5 linked regions of the Homo sapiens genome follow. The protein of the gene in region 5 purifies or fractionates together with the protein of the main gene of each other region. This does not show direct contact. Each region holds a gene or a part of one and is shown on either strand. Other genes may lie near its edges.

Evidence for each region.
Region 1: the proteins of COL3A1 (region 5) and TMEM150C fractionate together in Homo sapiens (co-fractionation; one large-scale study listed by BioGRID). This does not show direct contact.
Region 2: the proteins of COL3A1 (region 5) and GALNT6 fractionate together in Homo sapiens (co-fractionation; one large-scale study listed by BioGRID). This does not show direct contact.
Region 3: the proteins of COL3A1 (region 5) and SLC18B1 fractionate together in Homo sapiens (co-fractionation; one large-scale study listed by BioGRID). This does not show direct contact.
Region 4: the proteins of COL3A1 (region 5) and PAX3 purify together in Homo sapiens (affinity purification with mass spectrometry; one large-scale study listed by BioGRID and IntAct). This does not show direct contact.

Annotation. Positions count from the first base shown.
Region 1 is NC_000004.12:82,554,855-82,559,528, reverse strand, and holds part of TMEM150C (transmembrane protein 150C), read left to right. Parts: intron 1-4,674. UniProt on the Homo sapiens protein: Nonselective cationic channel with high permeability to Ca(2+). Component of a mechanosensitive cation channel, confers mechanically activated (MA) currents with slow inactivation kinetics. May contribute to proprioception.
Region 2 is NC_000012.12:51,356,182-51,360,855, forward strand, and holds part of GALNT6 (polypeptide N-acetylgalactosaminyltransferase 6), read right to left. Parts: intron 4,658-4,674; coding exon 4,540-4,657; intron 3,152-4,539; coding exon 2,951-3,151; intron 2,081-2,950; coding exon 1,949-2,080; intron 1,270-1,948; coding exon 1,168-1,269; intron 1-1,167. UniProt on the Homo sapiens protein: Catalyzes the initial reaction in O-linked oligosaccharide biosynthesis, the transfer of an N-acetyl-D-galactosamine residue to a serine or threonine residue on the protein receptor. May participate in synthesis of oncofetal fibronectin.
Region 3 is NC_000006.12:132,771,251-132,775,308, forward strand, and holds part of SLC18B1 (MFS-type transporter SLC18B1), read right to left. Parts: intron 3,064-4,058; coding exon 2,972-3,063; intron 1,839-2,971; coding exon 1,743-1,838; intron 1,000-1,742; coding exon of another isoform or gene 987-999; exon of another isoform or gene 957-986; coding exon 882-956; intron 1-881. UniProt on the Homo sapiens protein: Proton-coupled polyamine antiporter involved in the translocation of polyamines from cytosol into secretory vesicles prior to their release via exocytosis.
Region 4 is NC_000002.12:222,222,080-222,226,753, forward strand, and holds part of PAX3 (paired box protein Pax-3), read right to left. Parts: intron 3,342-4,674; exon of another isoform or gene 1-3,341. UniProt on the Homo sapiens protein: Transcription factor that may regulate cell proliferation, migration and apoptosis. Involved in neural development and myogenesis. Transcriptional activator of MITF, acting synergistically with SOX10.
Region 5 is NC_000002.12:188,997,930-189,002,025, forward strand, and holds part of COL3A1 (collagen alpha-1(III) chain preproprotein), read left to right. Parts: intron 1-336; coding exon 337-390; intron 391-744; coding exon 745-789; intron 790-1,355; coding exon 1,356-1,454; intron 1,455-1,540; coding exon 1,541-1,648; intron 1,649-1,912; coding exon 1,913-1,966; intron 1,967-3,467; coding exon 3,468-3,521; intron 3,522-3,606; coding exon 3,607-3,660; intron 3,661-4,096. UniProt on the Homo sapiens protein: Collagen type III occurs in most soft connective tissues along with type I collagen. Involved in regulation of cortical development.

The sequences.
Region 1 (4,674 bases), on a different chromosome or scaffold from region 5:
GGCTGGAGTGCAGTGGCACAATCTCAGCTCACTGCAACCTCCGCCTCTTGGGTTCAAGCGATTCTCCTGCCTCAGTCTCCCAAGTAGCTGGGATTACAGGCGTCCACCAGCATGCCTGGCTAATTTTTTTTTTTTTTTGTATTTTTAGTAGAGACGGGGTTTTACCATGTTGATCAGGCTGGTCTTGAATTCTTGACCTCAATTGAGCCACCCGCCTCGGCCTCCCAAAGTGCTGGGAATACAGCCAGGAGCCACTGTGCCCAGCCCCTGTCACATGGGTCCGTGTGAAGAGAGTCCACCAACAGGCTTTGTGTGAGCAACAAGGCTGTTTATTTCACCTGGGTGCATGTGGGCTGAGTCCGAAAAAGGAGTCAGCAAAGGGTGGTGGGATTATCATTAGTTTTTGTAGGTTTTGGGATAGGCGGTGGAGTTAGGAGCAATGTTTTGCAGGCAGGGGGTGGATCTCACAAAGTACATTCTCAAGGGTGGGGAGAATTAACAAAGAACATTTTTAGGGGTGGGGAAATTACAAAGAACCTTCTTAAGGGTGGGGGAGATTACAAAGTACATTGATCAGTTAGGGTGGGGAAGAAACAAATCACAATGATGGAATGTCATCAGTTAAGGCTATTTTCACTTTTGTGGATCTTCAGTTGCTTCAGGCCATCTGGATGTATACGTGCAGGTCACAGGGGATATGATGGCTTAGCTTGGGCTCAGAAGCCTGACAGCCCCTACTTATTTTAACTATAAATTTTTACTCCTGGAGCTGATGGTGCCATGTAGCTTTATATTTTTTCATAGTTGTTCTAAGTATTTTAAAACTTGTTCATAAATTATTGGAACTTTAAGTTATTGTTATCACCAAATATCATTTCCTGGTATGTTTAGATTTTTTTTTTTTTCTGGTATGTTTAGATTTTGAAAGACAACTTGTGGCAATGGAAAATCAATCATCATGCAAAGAGATTTTAGATCAGCCATTTAGAATATTTTGAGATAATCGTGAAATCTTTGGCAGTAGCCTTCAAATTCAGCCCCAAACTATTCTGAGTCAAACCAGCTTTGGTAGGTAGGGCTTGAAGCTCTTTTACTAAGTGAGAAATTAATATTTTCCTTTTTGGCATCTATAAACAGCCTTTTCTAGATCAGTGCTGTCCAAAAGAACTTTCTGCATTGATGGACATGTTCTGTAATCTGTCCAGTATGATAACCATGAGCCACATGTGGCTATTGAACGCTTGAAATGTGGGCTAGTGTAATTGAGGAACTGAATTTTAAATTTTATTTAGCCGTAATTAATTTAAATAGCCACATGAGGCTAGTGGCTACCATATTGGACAGTATAGTTCTGAATTTTCTCCCCATATTTCCTAGAGAGATAGCATTTAAAGGCAATTATCCTTTAATTAGAAAAAAAAAAGTGGCAATTGGCATTGATAATACCAGAATTGAGATTTGACTTCATAATCCTATTGCTATGAAAAACCACTTGTGAGGCCACGTGCAGTGTCTCACGCTTGTAATCCCAGCACTTCGGGAGGCTGAGGCGGGTGGATCATGAAGTCAGGAGTTTGAGACCAGCCCGGCCAATACAGTGAAACCCTGTGTCCACTAAAAATACAAAAAAAAATTAGCTGCGCATGGTGGCAGGTACCTGTAATCCCAGGGAGGGTGAGACAGGAGAATCGCTTGGTCCCGGGAGAGGCAGAGGTTGCAGTGAGCCAAGATCGTGCCACTGCACTCCAGCCTGGGCGACAGAGCTAGACTCCATATCAAAAAAAAAAAAAAAAAGAAAAAGAAAAGAAAAACCACTTGTACTTGCTCTGAAGAAGATATTTTGTGCTGAAGTTCAACCCTACTCTAAAAACTGTTTCTCTTTTTAATTTCTATGTGTCTGCTAGCCTCAATAATAAGCATCACCCAGAGTTGTTTAGATGCCTGGCCCCTCGTGTCGGTGTTCATGAACTTGGGCTTATTTGCTCTTTTGCACATTACAGATCATGTATTCTTAGAGTCAGTTTCTGTACGTTTCAATTTTTCAAGGGAGAGGAGGTTCAGAGAAAGGTAGGAAGTAGGTAGTGATGCACAACTCTCGCACTCTTCCCTTGATTACAATCACAGAGACCCTGTGAAAAGTCTGACAAATGGGTACCCCTGGCTCCAGGAGCAGCTGAAGCCTCTGCCTCTGTTGGTTTCTGCCCTTCTTGTCTGGTTTCTTTCTCTTAGGTTTCAAACCCAGATCCTCTTGCTCAAGTCTAGCCTGTGGAGATTACCAAATCCACTTAAGGTGTAACCTACCATTATTTTTAGTAAAGCCATTAAAATGGGATTTGATTTAGCATCAAGCATGTTGTTTCCATTTTTAAACTAATTTGCTTTGATTAAACCCATTATTTTGATCATGGAGAGGGACATGTTGTTAATTAGACTGTTTTACAAGACACTGCCTCTCATGTTTCTTGGGTGAGTGATGCTCCCGCACCCAGCATAGGCATCTAGGGTACTTCTCTCCAGGCCAGAGCTCAGGGTCCTGGGGGTTCCCCTCCTCTGGAAGGGACTCTTCCTCAATCAATTATTTAAAAATTTATTGACTATGTTTGTGCCTACTAATTATAGGTTGAAATAACTCCCAAATTATCTCTGTGTTGAAGATATTAACACCCCCTGATAACATTTCCCAAATTAGTGTCCATCCCATAGGGTGATGGGGATGCTTGAATAAATGCTCCATATAATCTTTTTTATTATTTTTTTTTGGAGATTTATAATGCACAATAGCATGGTAAAGCCTCTAAGATGAGATACATATACTTATTTAACTTTTTATTGTTATTGTTTTCTGTTCTTTTCTTTTCTCTTTTAATAGAGACAGAGTCTCACTCACTCTGTCACCCAGAATGCTCAGTGCATTCTTGAACTCCTGTCCTCAAGGGATCCGCCCACCTCAGCCCCCCAAGTAGCTGGAACTACAGGCGTGTGCCACCATGCCTGGCTGTTAGTGTTTTCAAAACAATTTTTCTTACAACACTTACTGTAGTATTTTTCAAATTACATGTCTTGGGTCATAAAATCAATTGAGCAGGTTAGGATCAGCATTTTTCTTGATGAAATAAAATGTCTAATAGAAGTGGTCACTGTGCATCCTTTTTATTGACGGTTACTAGTGTTTGATGAAACTTTGGCTCCTCCATGTATAACAAGTACCAGGCCACAAGGCAGTGGAGAGTAGTGGTTCAGAGCACTAGAGAGTCTGGGCACGTTGGCTCACGCCTGTAATCCCAACACTCTGGGAGGCCAAGGCGGGTGGATCACTCGAGGTCAGGAGTTCAAGACCAGCCTGGCCAACATGGCAAAACCCCGTCTCTACTAAAAATACAAAATTAGCCGGGTGTGGTGATGTGTGCCTGTAATCCCCCCTCCAAGAAAAAAAAAAACAACACTAGAAAAACAGGACCCCGGACCCCTAGGTTCAAATCCTAACTCTGCACCACTCAGTCCATATGTAATAAGCAGCATATATGCATATTTATTATTTGCATTATTGTTACATAAGTGTATATGTGTATACCGGTTCATGATGTAAAATATTGCCTATGAAACTAGGCTTGGGATCCACTTGAGGAAACACTGTCCTAAGACAAAAATAATAGCTAATAGTGAGTAACATTATTGAGTGCTTAACAAGTCCTCCAGCTGAATGCTTTGCATCTTATCTTGTCTCTCACAACAGTCCTTTGGTGTAGGTATTGCCATTATCCCGCAGTACCTACATCCCAGTAAGTAGTGAAGGCAGAATAGGAACCCACGCAATCTGGTGACAGCCCAAGCGTTCAACCACCTCACCTCCCATCTTACAATGTGATAGCGATACATAGATGTACATCTACAAAACTGTGAGGCTCAAAAATTGTAGAGCATTGTACAAGTGCGGAAATAAGCTGATGCCAGTTATTTTCTGTGTAAGAGGAGGCCTGATGGGTGATAGGGGAATCATTGCACATTTAGGCAGGAAGAGACCTCACTGCTGCCAGCCTGTGGTCTCTGAAGGTTAACGCCCTTGAAAAAACAGCTATATGCCCAAAGAAATATGCTTGTCCCAGAGACTGACTACAGATTTTGTCTCCAGAGCTGTCTTCCTTCCCTCCTAACCACTTCCTAACTTCTGCACACATTTGTTTTTAGCAGATAGTGACAAATGGTCTCAGTGGATATGTCTGTCTTATAAATCTACCACTATTTACTACATCCTAAGTTATTTGTCTTTTCAAAATCACCTCCTGCCCACAAGTGCCTCGTGACATAGTTTTAATAAAATAAATAGAAAACAATGTTGTTTTAAGAATTTCATATGACAAAAGAAGTCTTGAAAGTGAGGCTGGAAATATTTTTTCTCCAGTGCAATCTAGAAAGTAAAACTAATTTCATTTTGGAAGTAGATTTCAGTTTTCCTTAAAGGTCAAACTTAATGTAATCGGATCACTTAAAGTCCATAGACTTTGTCAGGTAGACTAGAAGAGGCAACAGCTTGCCATCATGCTTACTTTCCTTTAAAAAGTACAGAAGCTGTGTCTAACGTGAAAAATTCTAAAGCTATTCAGATTTTGTTCAAGGCTGTAGAATCTTCCATCTCTGAGGACAGTGATCCAGACTCTATCTGTGGAATAAAAAGGG
Region 2 (4,674 bases), on a different chromosome or scaffold from region 5:
GTGTGTATATATATATGTATATGTATATAAAATTCTTTTTTATGAGATGGGGTCTTGCTATGTTGCCCAAGCTGGTCTCAAACTCCTGAGCTCAAGTGATCCTCCCACCTTGGCCTCCCAAAGTGCTGGGATTACAGGTGTGAGCCACTGCGCCCAACCAGTATATTTTCTCTTTTTTTTTTTTTTTTTTTTTTTTGAGGCAGGGTCTTGCTCTGTTGCTTAAGCTAGAGTGTGGTGGCATGATCATAGCTCACTGCAACCTTGAATTCGTTTGTTCAAGCGATCCTCCATGTCAGCTTCCTGAGTAGCTGAGACTGCAGGCGTGTAGCACCACACTCAGCTAATTTTTTAAAAATTTTTTATAGAGATGGGGTGTCTTGCTATGTTGCCCAGACAGGTCTCAAACTCCTAGGCTCATGTGATCCACCTGCCTCACCCTCCCAAAGTGCTGGGATTACAGGTGTGGGCTACCGTGCCTAATCATATTTCCTTTAAATTAGATTAAAATTCAATTTAACTTAGCCTCATTTTAAGTAACATCCGTGAAATCATGTGATATGCTTGTTCTATTTTTGCTAATACATTACTATTAAAATAAAAAATGTTCTCCAGTGCACCACTGGAAATCATCTTGCAGGCCAGTGGTACAGGAAACTGCTGTAGAATGACTGTCTTCACCTACATATGCCAGCGGGCTTGTTCAGTGACCCACACCACTCCTTTCCCCACTCTGGCTCTGTTTTCAGTGCCTCTCACTTACTAGTGCTGGGCACCTAGTTTTGGGGTCACTGGAAGGTGGTAGGATCAGAGTGGTAGCTTCTGGGCAGAGGATGCATTGAAGATAGAAGTTGAGTGCAGGTGATGGGATGTGCTGGAAAATTTTCCACCCTCACCCCTAAATATCCCCCAGCAGCTAGCCTCCTCAAGCCTCCTCTGATGAACAACCCTCCCTCCCATCCCCTTCTCACACCCAGCACCGATGCCTCGTTCTCTCCGGATGTCCCTTATTCAGACCTTGTGTGTGTTATGCCTTCTCCTCCGACTGGAAGCTTCCTGAGGGCAGGGATGGTATCTCCTCCCTCCCAGTCCTCAGGAAAGGACTCTTTAGGGTAGAGAAAAGGAGCCGGTGAGGAGAGGAGATGCTCCGGAGATGGGTGGGCTGCATACCTGGTTGCCGCCAAGGCCGTGGCAGGAGTACATGATGAGGGGCTTCCCCCCGCGGTTGTTCTCACCCACATCCAGGCATTGGTTGGTGCCGAGGTTCTTGATCTGCAGAAGGGTGAGCAGAGAGGGGAAGCAGGATGGCACAGTCAGGAGGTTCCTCATGTGTGGTATGGGGCCCCACTGGAACAAATTCCAGTCAACTGCAACAAATTTGCATGGCTGGATTTCCCCCGTCATTTCTCTCCTCTGTGCGTTAACCCACATGCCTGGAGCTAACAGCAAAGTGAGCTGCAGAGCCCCAGAGGCTGGAAAGGGCAGGACTGAACCCCTCTGTGGGGCAGGCAGGGAACCTCCCAGGATGCCAGGTCCCTGGAAGAAGCCCTCAGCACGTGGGAGTTTCCTTATAAGCAGTGGTTCTCAAATGTGAGCCCTGGACCATCAGCATCACCTGGAGACTCGTGAGAAATGCAAGTTTTCAGACCTCCCCTGAGTCCTTCTGAATCAGGAACTCTGGGGATGGGCCCTAGCGTTTTACCGTGCCTTCCTGGTGATTCTGATGCATGCTAATGTTTCAGGACCACTGCTTGTGGGTTGTTTTGCCCTTTATAAGGTTTTTTGCTATCTCTAGAAGCCCCAACGTGGCCTCTCAGTCCTCCTCCTGGATAAAGGAGGGTGCAGGGCAAAACTCAATTCTTGTTTGTCATCCATCTGTGGGGTCAGTGGTCTTGAACTTCTCCAAGGGGTGCTGTGGTGATGGGCAGGCAGGTTGGTTCTCAAGACTTACGGCACCATAGAAGGTGGGCGTCAGGTCAGGAACAAACATCTCTGGGTAGACATTGTGCAGGTACCAGGAAAAGTTGTGACAGTGCAGTTGTTCCCTCAGCTGCAGTCGTTCCGAAATGTCACCGAAGGATTTCTGTCAATCAAGCCAGCCCCCTAAGGATCAGTTCCACCAGTTTTTTTTTTTTTTTTTAAGAGGGAGTCTCACTCTGTTGCCCAGGCTGGAGTGCAGTGGTGCAATCTCGGCTCACTGCAACCTTCCCCTCCTGGGTTCAAGCGATTCACCTGCCTCAGCCTCCTGAGTAGCTGGGACTACAGTCGCGCACCACCACGCCCAATTAATTTTTGTATTTTTAGTAGAGATGAGGTTTCACCATGTTGGCCAGGCTGGTCTCAAACCCCTCACCTTAGGTGATCTGCCCGCCTCGGCCTCCCTAAGTGCTGGGATTACAGGCGTGAGCCACCACACCCAGCCAGTTCCACCAGTCTTTGACCTTCCTGTCTGGGCTGAAGTAGTGCAGATAGCATGGAGCGCCTGGGGCTACTGTCTCTCATGTTCATTCCCACTCAGGACCTGTTAAAGATACTGGCCCAGCCCTCACATCCAATCCCAAAAACCCCGCCTTAGCTTTGGAGTCCCCTGCTTATCGGTCCATCTCCTGTGACTCCCCAGACAATTATGTCCCACTCCCCAGTGCCGAGGCTCTCAGAGCCATTCCTCCAAAGCCTCCAAAGCCTCCGTAAGAGGCTTTTCCTCCAAATCTCCTTTCCCTCCCTTCCCCTCCAAAGGGATGCAGAGACTCTATGCGTAGGGACAACATTCTCTAGCTTTTGAAACCTATGTGCCTTGTGGCCTTCTCCTGGGCTCTAGCTCACAGGTCCCTGAGGGTGAAGGGAGGCGCCAGATGGTAGAGATGAGGTGGGTCCCAGCCATTAGGCCCATGAACAGGGTCTGGGGGCCGTACTTCTCTTCATCTAAACCTCTCCGAGAACCATTTCCTCTCACCTCTTGGGCCATCTTTGCTGCCTGCAGATTTCTCCTATAGAAAATCTTCTTGTAGCTGTCCATCCAGACCTCTGCCAGGCGCACTTGATTGCGAGCAATGACACTAGTGCCCTTGGGGAAGGTGTGGGGGCTCTTGGTCCGGAACACATGGCCTACGACAGAGCAGGGGATGATCTCCAGCTGGCCCCCACACTGCCACACCTGATGTAAGAGGAGACAGGATGAGGCCTTCAGTGGGCTAGGTGAGACAGTCTCCCCATAAGCAGCTCTATTCTATTCCCAGAGCACCAGACCCCAGGTCCAAGGACTTGGGCAAATGCTGCTCTCTCTCCCTGGGAAAAAGGATACCGACCAGGCTTCTTCCTAGGCCATGACTACACGATCCCAGGCTTTCTGATGTTGGTTCACTCTGACTTAAGCACAGGGAGACTGCAGGGTCCTGTGTTTACCAGGGCCCACTTTAGGGAAAAGCCTGCTGGTTAATTTTTGTTACCTGTGCCTGTATACCTACTCTGAGCTCTGATCACTTGGCTTTTTGACCTGGAAATGTGAGTTTATCAGCTCCCTCAGGTGATAAAAACCAGAGCATCAGTCTGTTAATTAATAGCAAGGATAGTTGGCTGCTAGGTGGCTAGTGGTAGTCACTTGGGCCCTTAGCACACTGGCTGCCTAGGAAGGTGAACAGAGGTCAGAGGCTCATGGAGGAGCCTAGGATTGGGCCGCTGGGAGTTGGGGTGACTGGCAGGTGACCCTTTTCTATGCTGGTGGGCTGGCTGAAGACATCCCTCCCACTGGTTTCTTCTTTTGGGTTTTAGGTGGGAAAGTATGTTGTTATTCATTTTAGTGTGGCAGCAACAGAAATACATAATCGTTATAGTAACAGCAGGCATCAATTACGTGCTTAATATGCATCAGGCACCGTGAGAGGTGACTTCATAAATGAGCTCATCTACTTACTAATTACTTTTCCATGGCATGGAGATTTGTGTAGGTTTCATGGAGAGGCAATCCTTGCTTCCTGACCTAATCCTGATTTGCCTAATTCCTGGAATCTCTCAGAGTTCTGGGGTCCACCAGAGTTGGGGCCACCATCTTCTCTGACTGTTATGAAGGGCTTATTGTACATAGGTAGGGAAACTTCAAAGGTTACCAGGGCATGTGTCCTTTGAACTGGGAAGGGGAGCCTGATTTTTCCAGAAAAAGGATGATGACTGGTTACTCATCTGTTTTTTTTTTCTAGCCCTAGTTGTGAACATACTAACCTGTTTCTATCTTCACCCTAACCCTTTCCCACAGACATCGCAAAAGAGTCCCCAGTCACCAGATGTCCAGTCCTCATTACCCCTATTATTCCTTGCCTCTGAGAAGTTGTGCCCAGTAGTTTGTTTTGAGCTGTCCAGGCTGACTGCCCAAGCCCTACTGCCATGGACAGGGGGAGCAGAAAAGAGGAAGAGACACACTGGGAAATAGCCACCCTTTCTAGTTCAGTTCCAGATGGGATGTCCCTGATGCCACCTCTGCCTGAGAGATGTTTCTCAAGCTGTCGCCTGGGATGTTGTGGTTCCCCCCAAAGCCCTCTTCACTCTCACCCGGAAGGACATTTCCACGTTCTCCCCTCCCCAGATCTCCATCTGATTATCATAGGTACCGATGTGCTCAAAGTAGGACTTGGAGATGGAGAAGAGGCCACCAGCAAACGTCGGGGATCTGGAGAGACAGAGGGA
Region 3 (4,058 bases), on a different chromosome or scaffold from region 5:
AAGCTAATTCCTGGGCACAGCATTCAGTAAAAGAAAATAATTCTACCTGATAATGACATTCAAAATTTTTTAACAATTTTGAAATTATTACTGCTTCTGAAAAGTTGATGGCTTATATAAAAATAAAAAATATGAAACAGATTTAAAAAATTCTTTATATTATTCTATTCTCAGTATTTGCAACTAATATAACTCAATTCAAAACAATATATTACATTGTTAGCATAGTTACCCTTCTGGTAGAAGGTAAAAAATAAACAAATGAATGAATAAATGAATAAATTGTAAAAATCAGAGACATGTTTCTATTAAAGGAACTTATAAATACCACTCAAATAAGATAAAGTATATGAAACCATTTTGACTAAGTATTAAACTGTTGGTATAGGCATTGATTGTTGAGTGAAAGGGTATGGATTAGAACTCTGGCTTTCCCCTAGATGAACTGTTTGTCTTTGAGAAACTCATCTGATCCCTCAGTGTTTCAATTTCTTCATCAACATCAAGCAGGGATAGTATTAATATTTTCCATCTTGCAAGTATGAATGAAATTAAATGAGGCTGGGCACAGTGGCTCATGCCTGTAATCCCAGCACTTTGGGAGGCCAAGGCGGGCAGATCACCTGAGGTCAGGAGTTCAAGACCAGCCTGGCCAACACGGTGAAACCCTGTCTCTACTAAAAATACAAAAATTAGCCAGATGTGGTGGTGGGCACCTGTAATCTCAGCTACTCAGGAGGCTGAGATAGAAGAATCTCTTGGACCTGGGAGGCGGAGGTTGCAGTGAGCCAAGATCGCACCATTGCACTCCAGCCTGGGTGATGAGAGTGAAACTCCATCTCAAAAAAAAAAAAAAAGAAAGAAATTAAATGACTACTCACCCAATTGACCACATTGCACTAAAAAGACCTGATACAAGTCCCAATGTACTTAATCCCTCTTCAAACCCATTTTCACTGCAAAAAGAGACATGAGTGTATCCATTATTAAAAGGAAAACCTGTGTGAAAGAAAAAATTGTATGATAGATCAATTAAGATAAACCAAGGATAATCTGGAAAAAAACCAACAGCAAGAATACTCTGCTTCTAAGATAAAAAGCAAATCTTATTTAAAAGAATTTTCATAGTTACATTTACTCCATGGTTTTCTAGAAATAATTTTTCTGCATATATATATGATATTAAGAAGCATGGCTCATTTGCATTAAATACTTATAAAAATATATAATTAAGAAATTCTTAAAATGAGATGAAGATGGAAAGAGAACAAAGGCAACTTTTAAAAAACAGAGATAGTTCCTTATTCCCATGAGAACTATTGAACTGACCCAGCACAGCCATAGTACTTAGTGTTCTTCATCATCATGCCTATTAAACAAAAGAATGATGACCAGGTGACAGATGCTGGTCACTCTAGGCTCTCTCATGGACCTCCTCCATGAAAGAGGAACAATGCTGAGACCTATCTATTTTGCTTTAGCTTTTCAAAATTACTTACATACTGAGGCATAAACCAAGCCAGACATCTGTCCACAACCCATTTTAGCTATTAATGTACTATTATCATTTCTATTAGTGTATTATTACTATTTATATCATAATATCATATGCTACAAAATCATGAAGATTTAACATTGGGGCAAAAATATCCAACATGCTGCAAAATTGAGAAATTCAAGAAAGCCTGTGATACTTACTACTTATTCACAATACAGCTCTTCAAGCAATGGAAGTAACTTACTGTGCACAACTGAGAATTTCCGGGAAAGTTGGAATTATACTCATTCCAGCAGAGAGGCCACTTACAACTAATATCAGCACCAGCAGCCAGAGCTGACTGCAAAAGGGTTTTGGAGAAAACAAATACAAAAAGAAAAACATTAGCGTTTTAACAAACACAAAGCTTAATGCTAAGGAAGTGAGGATCCCTGATAAGTTATTTCACCGATTATGTGCCTAGTCTCATTCCCTTTCCCATCTAACCCATTTCATTCAGTTAGAGTGTCCTTTAGCTCCTTACAGTTTTGGGGGCGGGGGGGTGGGGGGGAATTCATCCTGATATCTCCATCTCTTTGGTCCTTTGGTTACACATATCACATATCTGGAGCCAACCTGGCTTCTTCTCACCAGACAAAATCCCTTCAAAATTGGTGAAAACGTCAGTACTAAAACTGTTCTTTCAATCACTCGGCTTTGAACTTCAATTAATTTAAAGATGGCATAGAAGGAAAGAGGTAAAAGAAGAGTCAGGAAACACATTTGTTCCATGTGAGGAGACTATGCCAGTTACTTAATATATGTTACCAGATTTAATCCTTGTAATGTAAGTACTATTATCAGCTCCTTTTTGTAGATGAGAAAACCGAGGCTCTTGGAAGTTAAGTGGTTTGCTTATTAGTACATGGCAAAGCCAAAATGTAAACTCAGGTCTGAAGGACTCTGAAACCCCTTCCTTTCCAGGTTACTATGTTTTATCCCAGAAGTACCTGAAAAGGTCTAAGAAGTTCAGTTTATTTTAGCAACTAAATTACATTAAGCAAGGTCTAATAAGCAGCTACTACATGCTAAGGATGATACAGAAAGAAAAATAGATTTGGTCCCTGCCTCAAGGAAAAAGAAAAGAAAAAAAAAACAAAAATATATTCTAAGAACTATCAACTAAAGGTAAGTAGCAACAAATTCTATTTTAAAAATATAACAAAAGTATAAACAAGTATGTACAATTGAAATACAGAAGGAGAATATGCATTTTTGTCATTTGAGACAGATTTTATGCATTTTTTTCTGTTGTCCCACTGCTAGCTTCTAGTAGGGTAAAATATTGTCAGCCTAACAATTCAATAGAGTCCTAAAGTTAATTATTTAAATATTAATGTTCAAAATACTAAACTATACCAATGTTAAAACAAAATTTTTCGAAATAATTCCTAATGTTATTTGGCCAAACATACAGAAGAAGAAAAAAATTACCTTTTAATATGCAAGATTGGGACAGGCCCTAAGAGCATGTAGCACCCGGCTGTGATTAAGTTGCCAAACACCAGAAGCCATTTCCTTAGAGGCTGGTAAAGGAGAAAGAGAGTCAAAATGATTCTTAGAGGCAAAGACCCTCCATAATCAAACAACGTAAAACATTAGTAAAAAACACAAATCATGATATTCAAAAACCCAAATACAATGAAGAAAACAAAACTTTACATTTAAAAGAAAGTAAGGAGATGATAAACTCGCAAGCAATGACGATATATAACAAGGCAGAAAGTGAACAAAGGACAAAGATTTCTTAGCAGGGGAGTGCATTGCAGATCAGATTTTGCACATGATGAACTATTACAAATATAACAACGAAAAAACTCATTATAAAAAGCAGTAACCGGCCAGGCACGGCGGCTCACACCTATAATCCCAAAACTTTGAGAGGCCGAGGTGGGAAGATCCCTTGAGCTCACAAGTTTGAGACCAGACTAGCCAACATGGTGAAACCCTGTCTCTATTAAAAAAATACAAAAATTAGCTGGGCAGGGTGGTGGACATCTGTAATCCCAGCTACTCAGGAAGCTGAGGCAGGAGAATTGCTTGAACCTGGGAGGCGGAGGTTGCAGTGAGCCAAGATCACACCACCGTACTCCATCCTGGGCAACAGAGCAAGACTCTGTCTCAAAAAAAAGCAGTGACCACAAAAAAAACCCACCAAGTATTAATAGTTACAATACCTAGAAAAATCACATTATTAAAAAATTACCTGCTAGAGACTGAATGCTTATGTCCCCCCAAAATTTATATGTTAAATCTTAACACCCAATGTGATGGTATCTGGAGGTGAGCCTTTGGGAGGTGATTAGTTAATGAAGGTGCAGCCTTCATGAATAGAATTAGTATCCTTATACAAGAGGCCCCAAAGAGCTCCCTTGCCCATTCCATCATGGTGAGGTTAAAGTGAAAGATGACAATCTGTGCGCCAGGCAACAGGCCCTCATCAGACATCAAATCTGCCAGTGCCTTAATCTTGGACATGTCGGTCTCCACAATTGTGAGAAATAAATTTCTATTGTTTATA
Region 4 (4,674 bases), about 33 Mb from region 5:
TGCTAACCAGGTACATTCAGAAAAGCCTGATACAATATAATAAAATGCCCTCAAATAATTCAAAGCCCAAGTATTTTGTATGAGTCAATGGAGAGAAAGGGCAGTCATGGCAGCAAGAAATGTAACTGAATATCTAAACTATTGAGAAATTGTGATATAAGGCCTTTCATGGGTCCTGTGCTCCTGCCCAACTCTTACATCTGCAAAGTTTAAATGTAGAACTTGGGGTGATTTTTCCACGGAGCACACATGATGTTTCCCCTAAAATGAGAGAGGATTTCTACCAACTAAAGATATTCTAATTCCTACATCAAAAGTTCATTGAAACTTTTTTTTTTTTTTTTGAGACAGTCTTGCTCTGTCGCCCAGTCTGGAGTGCAATGGCGGGATCTCAGTTCAACCCAACCTCCGCCTCCCAGGTTCAAGGGATTCTCTTGCCTCAGCCTCCCCAGTAGCTATGATTACAGGCACCCGCCACCATGCCCAGCTAATTTTTGTATTCTTAGTAGAGACGGGGTTTCACCATGTGGGTCTTGAACTCCTAAGCTCAGGTGATCCACCCGCCTCGACCTCCCAAAGTGCTGGGATTACAGGCGTGAGCCACCCATTGAAACTTAATATGGAGGAAAGCACTGTGTTTGGGGTTGGAAGGATATAAAGGGAATCAAGTAGGATCTCTGCACTCTGGTAGTTTGATGCCTTGTCCTCATGGGATTCACAGAGCAGTCAAGGAGACCAAAATAATTGCTCGCTAGAGGTAGAAACTTCACATTTGGAAGCACAGAGAATCAGGAAAACTCTAAAGTGGAAGCAAAAAGTTTCAGCTCATTTTAAAATTTGATTCTAATTTCGACGAGCGATCGCTTGAGATGGAAGTGACATCCATCCTGTCCTACAGGGCAGGCAGATGCAGCTTGTTACAGGAGGCCAGCTTAAGAGAAGATGAGAATTGATTTCCTTACAGAGCAATGTTAACAATTTTGCAACTTAATTGTAATTCTTAAAGTCAGATCATTTAAGAGCGGAGGAAAAGATTTTTCTGGAGAAGAAGCTCAATTTAATAAATCCTTTGCCGAGGGATTTGCTCAAACTTTTGGTACTCACCCAAGCATTTGTCTGAAAAGAGTTTTGTCTTCTCTCGCCATTGTTGCAAGATACTGGTAAGGAAAGCTGTTTGAACTTCCTCAAAACATCAACATTTAATACTCCTTAAGTTTCCAACAGGAAAACGAGGTAAGTTAATATTTTCCCATGTTGATACATAATTGAATTAGAGTTTTACTTAACTTAATAAATTGCCACCTGGGGTAATAGAACCATGAACAGCACTTAATTTCAGGTCTGCATTAACTGTGCTTTCTCACTGCCCCGGTCTGAGTGCCTGTTACCACGGCTCCCAAAGGCATCAGGGTAAGAAAATCATTTTCAAGAAAGTTCTGGGAACAAACTGTGTTAGCTTGGGGAGGCTGAAGGTGGGAAATTAGGGTCATGTTCATGCCTGAGTGCACTGTACCATAACACACACTGTGGTTGTAGTTTATATTATAATACGTCAAGACTAAGGAGGTACTCCCGGCTCAGATCAGGTAGTCCTCTGCAACTATCTAGACCAGCGATGTACAGTGCATCTCCAGCTTTATATTGCTGGGAGGAGAACTGGACTTCCAAAAGTTTTGATGTAACTTCACTCATGAAGATTTACTATGCTCAGTTCCACTGGTGAAACCCTTTATGAAGAACTCAGAAAGGTACGCTTCGGTTTTTGTCAGATTTGTTGGCAATCTCTCTGTGCCACCTGCCTTCTGTAACCTTTAGATAAGTAAACCCAGGAGTGGTGAAGCCTGATCTCTCCATCAATCTCAAGTTACTATTGACTCAAGGTTCATTCTAACTCCACCATAACCCAATTTTTAAAAACAAAAATGTCTTTGCTGAGATAATAAAGAAGAAACATCATGAGTTTCTACAAATACCTTCAAAAGACAGAATCCAAACAGAGTAAGAGTATAAGGGTTTGGGGGTTTGTTTTCATATTTTCTAAAATGATATAAATAGGTAACAAAGACATTGAGTAAACTCACCAGGAGTTGGATTAAAAAGTCCTTATATTTATTATACAGTATCTATTATATCCACAATAAAAAATGAAGAGAAATTGTTGTGAAGCAAATCTTTACTGAAAAACAAACCTTCAGCAAGAGGTTCAAGAGATTCCCAAAGGAAGGAATTTAAATGTTGTTTAAATTTAGGCTAAATAAATCCAGAGGGCTATTCCTAAGAGAACCAGGGCTTAGTGAGGACTGGCCTGCCTGTCTCTGGTCATTTAACCTGATTTTTTATCATCTTACCATTGCCAGCCTTCTGCATTTCCTAGAACCAGCTGAATTTGCCAAAAGAAGTATTAAAGGAAAAACACACTAACTTTGCAAATTAAGAACTGGTCTTTGCCTTCTTTATGTTTTGAAACTCAAAACAGACAAATTTTCTATTTTTAGTAGACTAAAAAGAGTACCCTAGAAATGACCTTTACTTTCAATACCTGAACGAACCAAGCGTAGTGATCCTAGGAGGCTGTTATCAGCCCACATTTAACTGAAATTTTCTTGATACTCCTAAGTCTTAGATAACTCTTTCAATATTGTATCACTAATTCCTAACATACAATCAATGAATAATCTGCAGAATGGCATGTGTGAGTGTATAACACTGAATAAATTCATCTAAAATATACATATTTATAACTTAGTAGTTACACTTTCTAGAAATTTCCCCTTGTTTTGAAAAGAATAGCAGTAGCAACAGAGGCAAACTGGCCTATGACTGATGTTCTAGGAGAGAACAGAAATTTACCACCCAATGTCTTTGCCAGTAGGGTGGAAAGAACAAGATTTACAAAGTTGGCTATACACCTTTAAATGAAATTATATGATCTACAATTCAATGTAATTTTACTATCCCCACACAAGATTACCTGGCCTTCCGCATCACACTTGGCATGTTAAGGAAGTGGGGGCAGGAGGCACAAATTTGTCAGTAACCTACTATACTATTAGACACAGTTAATTGTCTATCATTGCATGTATAATATTACATCAAAAGTCTCCCTCAAAGCAAGTTGTTATTTCATTTGATAAACTGCAGCCCGGTTCATTTTTATCTGCCGCCTGTACTTCCCAACTTGTATGTCTCTCTACTGAGTCCTTCCATAAAGCCATATTTCATGTCTTTGAAAAATGATCTTTACATGCATTTCTCTAGTAGTATAATGTCCAATGATTTTTTGAAACAAAATTTAAATTGGTTGAAAGAGCCCCATAACATCATGATAACTAGGAAAAAAAGATAATAATTAGAAAAGAAATTTTCATACTTTTTATGAGTAAGCAAACCAGTTTGTTCAGACTCTCAACATTACAAGTTGGCGGGTGGCGGGGAAACTAGTACTTTCTACAGTAAAGATACAACAATACATCTTATTCACATGTGTGCAATACAGACCAGGCAAAAGTTGAATCTCAGCTCCTCATTTATATTAATACTTCTGTGACCATGAACAATTTGCTTAATATCTGGGGGTCTCTGTTTTCCCATGTGCTAAACGGGGAATATAAAAACTACTTCACAAGATTGTTGTGACTATTAAAAATGCAATGCAATCTAAGCTTCTAAAAGAATACCAAGGAGATATTAAATGTTCAGTAAATGCTAGCTATTAAATAGAAAGTCTCACACTGACACTTCTATCTGAGAAAACCAAGAATTGAAGCTCTGTTTTGCTTCCTTCACTCTGTGGTGTCCAGCCAAAGCCTTTTGTGTCTGTGAGTAAACAGGAAAGTGCCCAGAAAACACCTCAAATAATTGAAAGCCGGTTTGACTTGAATGGAGGCTTAGGTCAAATTTGCTTCCAAGTTTCATGGATTAGTGCTAATTGTCCCTTGGTGTCAGCCTAATTTTGCCCATCAATAAATTACTGGTTCACATTTTTGGTGGTGTTCTCAAAGGCAATTCAGCCTACATTATTCAAGACGGATTACTTCAAATGCAATTTGAAAAATGGGGAGAGAACATAATAGTTAATCCTTAGAAAGAGAATTCGCAACAAGATTGTAAAACGTTTGGTTAAATACTAGACTCAGGATGTCGAATGCTGACATGCCAAGTACAGTACTTTCCAAGTAGGGAAATTCAGGGCAAGCTGCTCATTTCCCTGGACCTTCTCCTTCACTCTCACCTCCTTTCTCTTTCTATGAAAGGTTCTCCCAGCCTTCCAATCACTGCTGCTATCCAACTTTGGCCACCATTTGGAGAGCAGGTTGGAAACAGGATGGGCAAGATTGAACAGGAGGAAGGCCATGCTCCCATGCATGTGAAAAGACCATGGACACACACAAAAGCACACTCAACTGCATCTTGATACCTCCCAAAAGCAAACTCCTGCAGAGAACTTCAGGATGAACATATGTTTGCTTCATTACGGAGCTTAGGATATTCTATACCTATCTGAACTTCTGAACTATACAGATCAGTTAGACGGCTTCAAATCATCATGGTGCTTTTTTAGGAATTCCAAATTACTGATGCTATAAGGATTCTGCCATATTCTCATTCCCTTTCTCATTCCCAAGGGTCCTGAGAAATTATGCATTTGGGTCATTCCCAAAATGCATGATTTCT
Region 5 (4,096 bases):
ATAAGTTATTTAAAAGAATTAATGAAACTCAAATAATTCTATTTGGTTACACTTATTTTTATTATAACATAAATCCATATAGCCAAGTCTATCCTGCCATGCTGGTCAATACATTTTTACGTGTAGCAATTGAAAGAACAGAGAGAGATGAAAATGGGTTTGTAAAATATGATTATCACGTATGTGTCACTGGATTTTGAGTGGCACAACGTTTCTACCCCTACAAGACCACTGGAACTTTTTTTTAATATCTTGCAGAAACATGTGTACATATGAGAAGCTTTTCTATAAGCCATGTTTGAGGTAATTACCTAATACAAATATGATTCTTTCTAGGGCTTGCCTGGTACAGGTGGTCCTCCAGGAGAAAATGGAAAACCTGGGGAACCAGTAAGTTACGTTTCATTATTCAAAACTCAGAAACAAAAAGAATACACACTGTTTGTTTGTCAACTATTAACTTCTTAATTTTCTTATGCCATGATATTTGAGATTTAACATTTAGTTTTGAAATATTATCAAAACAAAGACAAATTATTTAAAAGATAACTATTATATAGAGTTTGAATTTTACCATAAAATAGAGAGTTCATAGTTTCAAGATTTGAAAAATTATACAGTATGCCAACATGACAAATGTGTATTTTGCTTATATTTACATATTTGCTTATATTTACATATTTGCTTATATTTACATAAAATGCACTCTGATATGGGCCTAATCATATAATGCCAATCTCCCAGGGTCCAAAGGGTGATGCCGGTGCACCTGGAGCTCCAGGAGGCAAGGTAGTATTTCAATTTATTCTCTACCTTCTTCAGCAGGTTATAGAGCAATTGATTAGTAGTATATTTTTAGTATATCAAGCCAAAATACTCTTTCTTTAAAAGAGCATCATTGCAAATGTTTGGTAAGTACACTTAGAGAAACTCAAGACACTTTCAATACATTAAATTTGCTTTAATCTGGAAGGTCCAATTCTCTGACATTCATAATCACTACAGAATCAAATACGGGCTTAAAATTTCAAACGGAAAAATATTGCCAATATGTTGATTCTATGTAGGAAAACTGTTTTGGTAAAAAGAACTTTAAAATGTTGCTCTTGTGAATAAAATAATAAGTATTTCAATGACAGCTCACACTTAACCAGACTAAGTATCCAAGTTTTATTTTAGACACTCTTTTAAGCTTCTAGTTCCCACCCAGCTGTTCAACTATTTTTAAGTATACAAATTTCTAGATTGTTCACAATATAATAACCTAGTGGCCTGATTCAAAATGATGCAAGTTAAGGTGCTTTGTTTTTAGCTTTGGGTTGTCTAATATGGTTATTTACATATTTTTGTCACAGGGTGATGCTGGTGCCCCTGGTGAACGTGGACCTCCTGGATTGGCAGGGGCCCCAGGACTTAGAGGTGGAGCTGGTCCCCCTGGTCCCGAAGGAGGAAAGGTAACTCCACAGCATTCCATTCACCTAGGTTTAAAAAATGCATTTGATTTCCTTCTGATCATTTATTATTTCTCACTTATTTTCAGGGTGCTGCTGGTCCTCCTGGGCCACCTGGTGCTGCTGGTACTCCTGGTCTGCAAGGAATGCCTGGAGAAAGAGGAGGTCTTGGAAGTCCTGGTCCAAAGGGTGACAAGGTGTTGACTTGTTTTCTCTTAATTGTTCAATAAATCAGTCATTGTAGGTTTTAAAAAAAGCAACACTCCTGGAAAGTAATCGACTGTATTTTCAAAATTAATGTTATCATTTTATAGTAAGTGAAATTTAAGATGGATTCCTAAAGCAACAATGAATTAGAACACCCAATATATATCCCTACAAATCCTGAGAGTTACTCCTCTTCTTGGCTGATTTTCACTGAAGATACTTTGAATCTGATGACATTGGCTTTTATTTGACAGGGTGAACCAGGCGGTCCAGGTGCTGATGGTGTCCCAGGGAAAGATGGCCCAAGGGTGAGTATTCCCAGTGAGGAGAAGCAGGCCTTATCTATATGTCATATGGGACAGTCCTGCACTTCAACTTTAATTTTTTCCAAAAACTACTCAAGAGAAATTAGATATTTTACCACCTAAAGACCCGAATGACTTGATTTATAATGAAATTTGTGGTCTATATCTATGGCTACTTGATAGATCTACAGTGACTAAAGAATGAAAAAGCCTCAAGAGTACGATAAAGGTCACAAACTAGCATTTGTGAGTCACTAAAATCTGAGATAATCACTGAAATTTAGGATAATCAATGCTGCTCATTAAGAAACTAAAAGTCATCAAAATTCAATATAGTAAGTACTCCTCATTAATAGACTTAATATTTAAAAATTGTATAGTATTTAGCAACAAAAAGGAATGAACAATTGATGCTGTACACACAGCAAATTATACAAACCTCAAGGACAACATACTCAGTGAAGAAAATTCAGTCACCAAGGGATACATACTGCATGATTCCATTCCTACAATATTTGCAAAATAACTTCCTTGTAGAGATGTAGAACAGATTAGTGGTTGCTAGCAGTTAAGAATGAGAAAGAGAGAGATGGATGTGGCTATGGAGACATGACACAAGGGAGTCTTATGGTGATTGCACATTTGAGTATCTTGATTGAGGTGGTAGTCAGGCACATCTACACATGGGATAAAATTCTATAGAGCTACATATACACACACATAAATGAGTGTGTGTATCACTGGTGAAATCTGAACATGCTCTATGGATGGTATCAATGTCAATTTCCTAGTTTTGATATTATATTATAGTTGTGTAAGATGTTAACATTAGGGGACGCTGGGAGAAAAGTGCACAGAATTTCCCTGTATATTCCTTTGCAGCATCCTATGAATCTATAATTCAAACTAAAAGTCAAAAACAAAACAAAAAACATCTCCTAAATATGATTATAATTAAGTCTTTTAATAAATTTATATAATAGTTGCCTTAAAGAAATTCATAAATGCTTCGCTTTTGACAGACTAAGTAGATAAGCCGTCATTCAGGTAAAAAGAGTGCTCAATACTTCAGTTTTGTAATATAAGTAAAACTACTATTTGAAAATTTCAAGTTGAAAAATTTAATATGTACAATGAGACTTTGAGAAAACATTTAAATTATCAAGCAATTGAATAAAGAAATGTACTTTAATTTAAAAAGACATTACTGTAAGATCTTACATGACATCCTATTTATCTTCTACAATGGAGATAAAGATAAATGAATCAATAAACTATTGCTGAATCCTATTTTCTCCCAGAGTTATCCCCAAAGAGGCTTGTGTTTACTGAGCTCTGCAGTATTTACACATTGAGAGAAAAGCATAGCATTCAAGCCATAAAAATTTTTAAAAAGTATGTTATCTAGTTTATTAGGTATCTATGTCTATATACTTTCTGTTTGATTAATGCAAAAAACGATATTTGTATCTTCAAAATTAAAAAATATTTTTATTTCCTCTAGGGTCCTACTGGTCCTATTGGTCCTCCTGGCCCAGCTGGCCAGCCTGGAGATAAGGTAACCCTTAATACTACCTGGATATAAAAAGAAAATGTCTCTCTCTTTTGGATGCAAGACAGTGACATGGCTTCTCTTTTTCCAGGGTGAAGGTGGTGCCCCCGGACTTCCAGGTATAGCTGGACCTCGTGGTAGCCCTGTAAGTGTTAAAGACATTCTCAACATACTTTTTAACCCCATACAGACAGTAGCTACTTATGCTTCCCTTTTTGGCAGTTTTGCCCTCAGTTCCCTGAGCCTCAATTTGGAGATATTATCTTCAAAAACCATATAAGGAACCATATAGCATGCAAGGGAATGTTAAATTTCTTAAATCTAACATTCACAGGAGACCATTTTAAATCAGGATTTCTTTCCTAAATAACTTTGGAAAAAATACATGAATTGCACAAGTAGTACATGTTTGTAATTAGGTATTTCTTAAGCCTATAGAATCTTTGCCTGAGACTCCTTCTAGATTTAAAAGTCTTGACCTTCAGGATTTAAGACTCTGGAAAGATATTTAGTAAATGGTTTTTAAAAATAAATCAGTTAATTTTTCAGTTAAGCTTCTACCATATATTGAAATACATAAA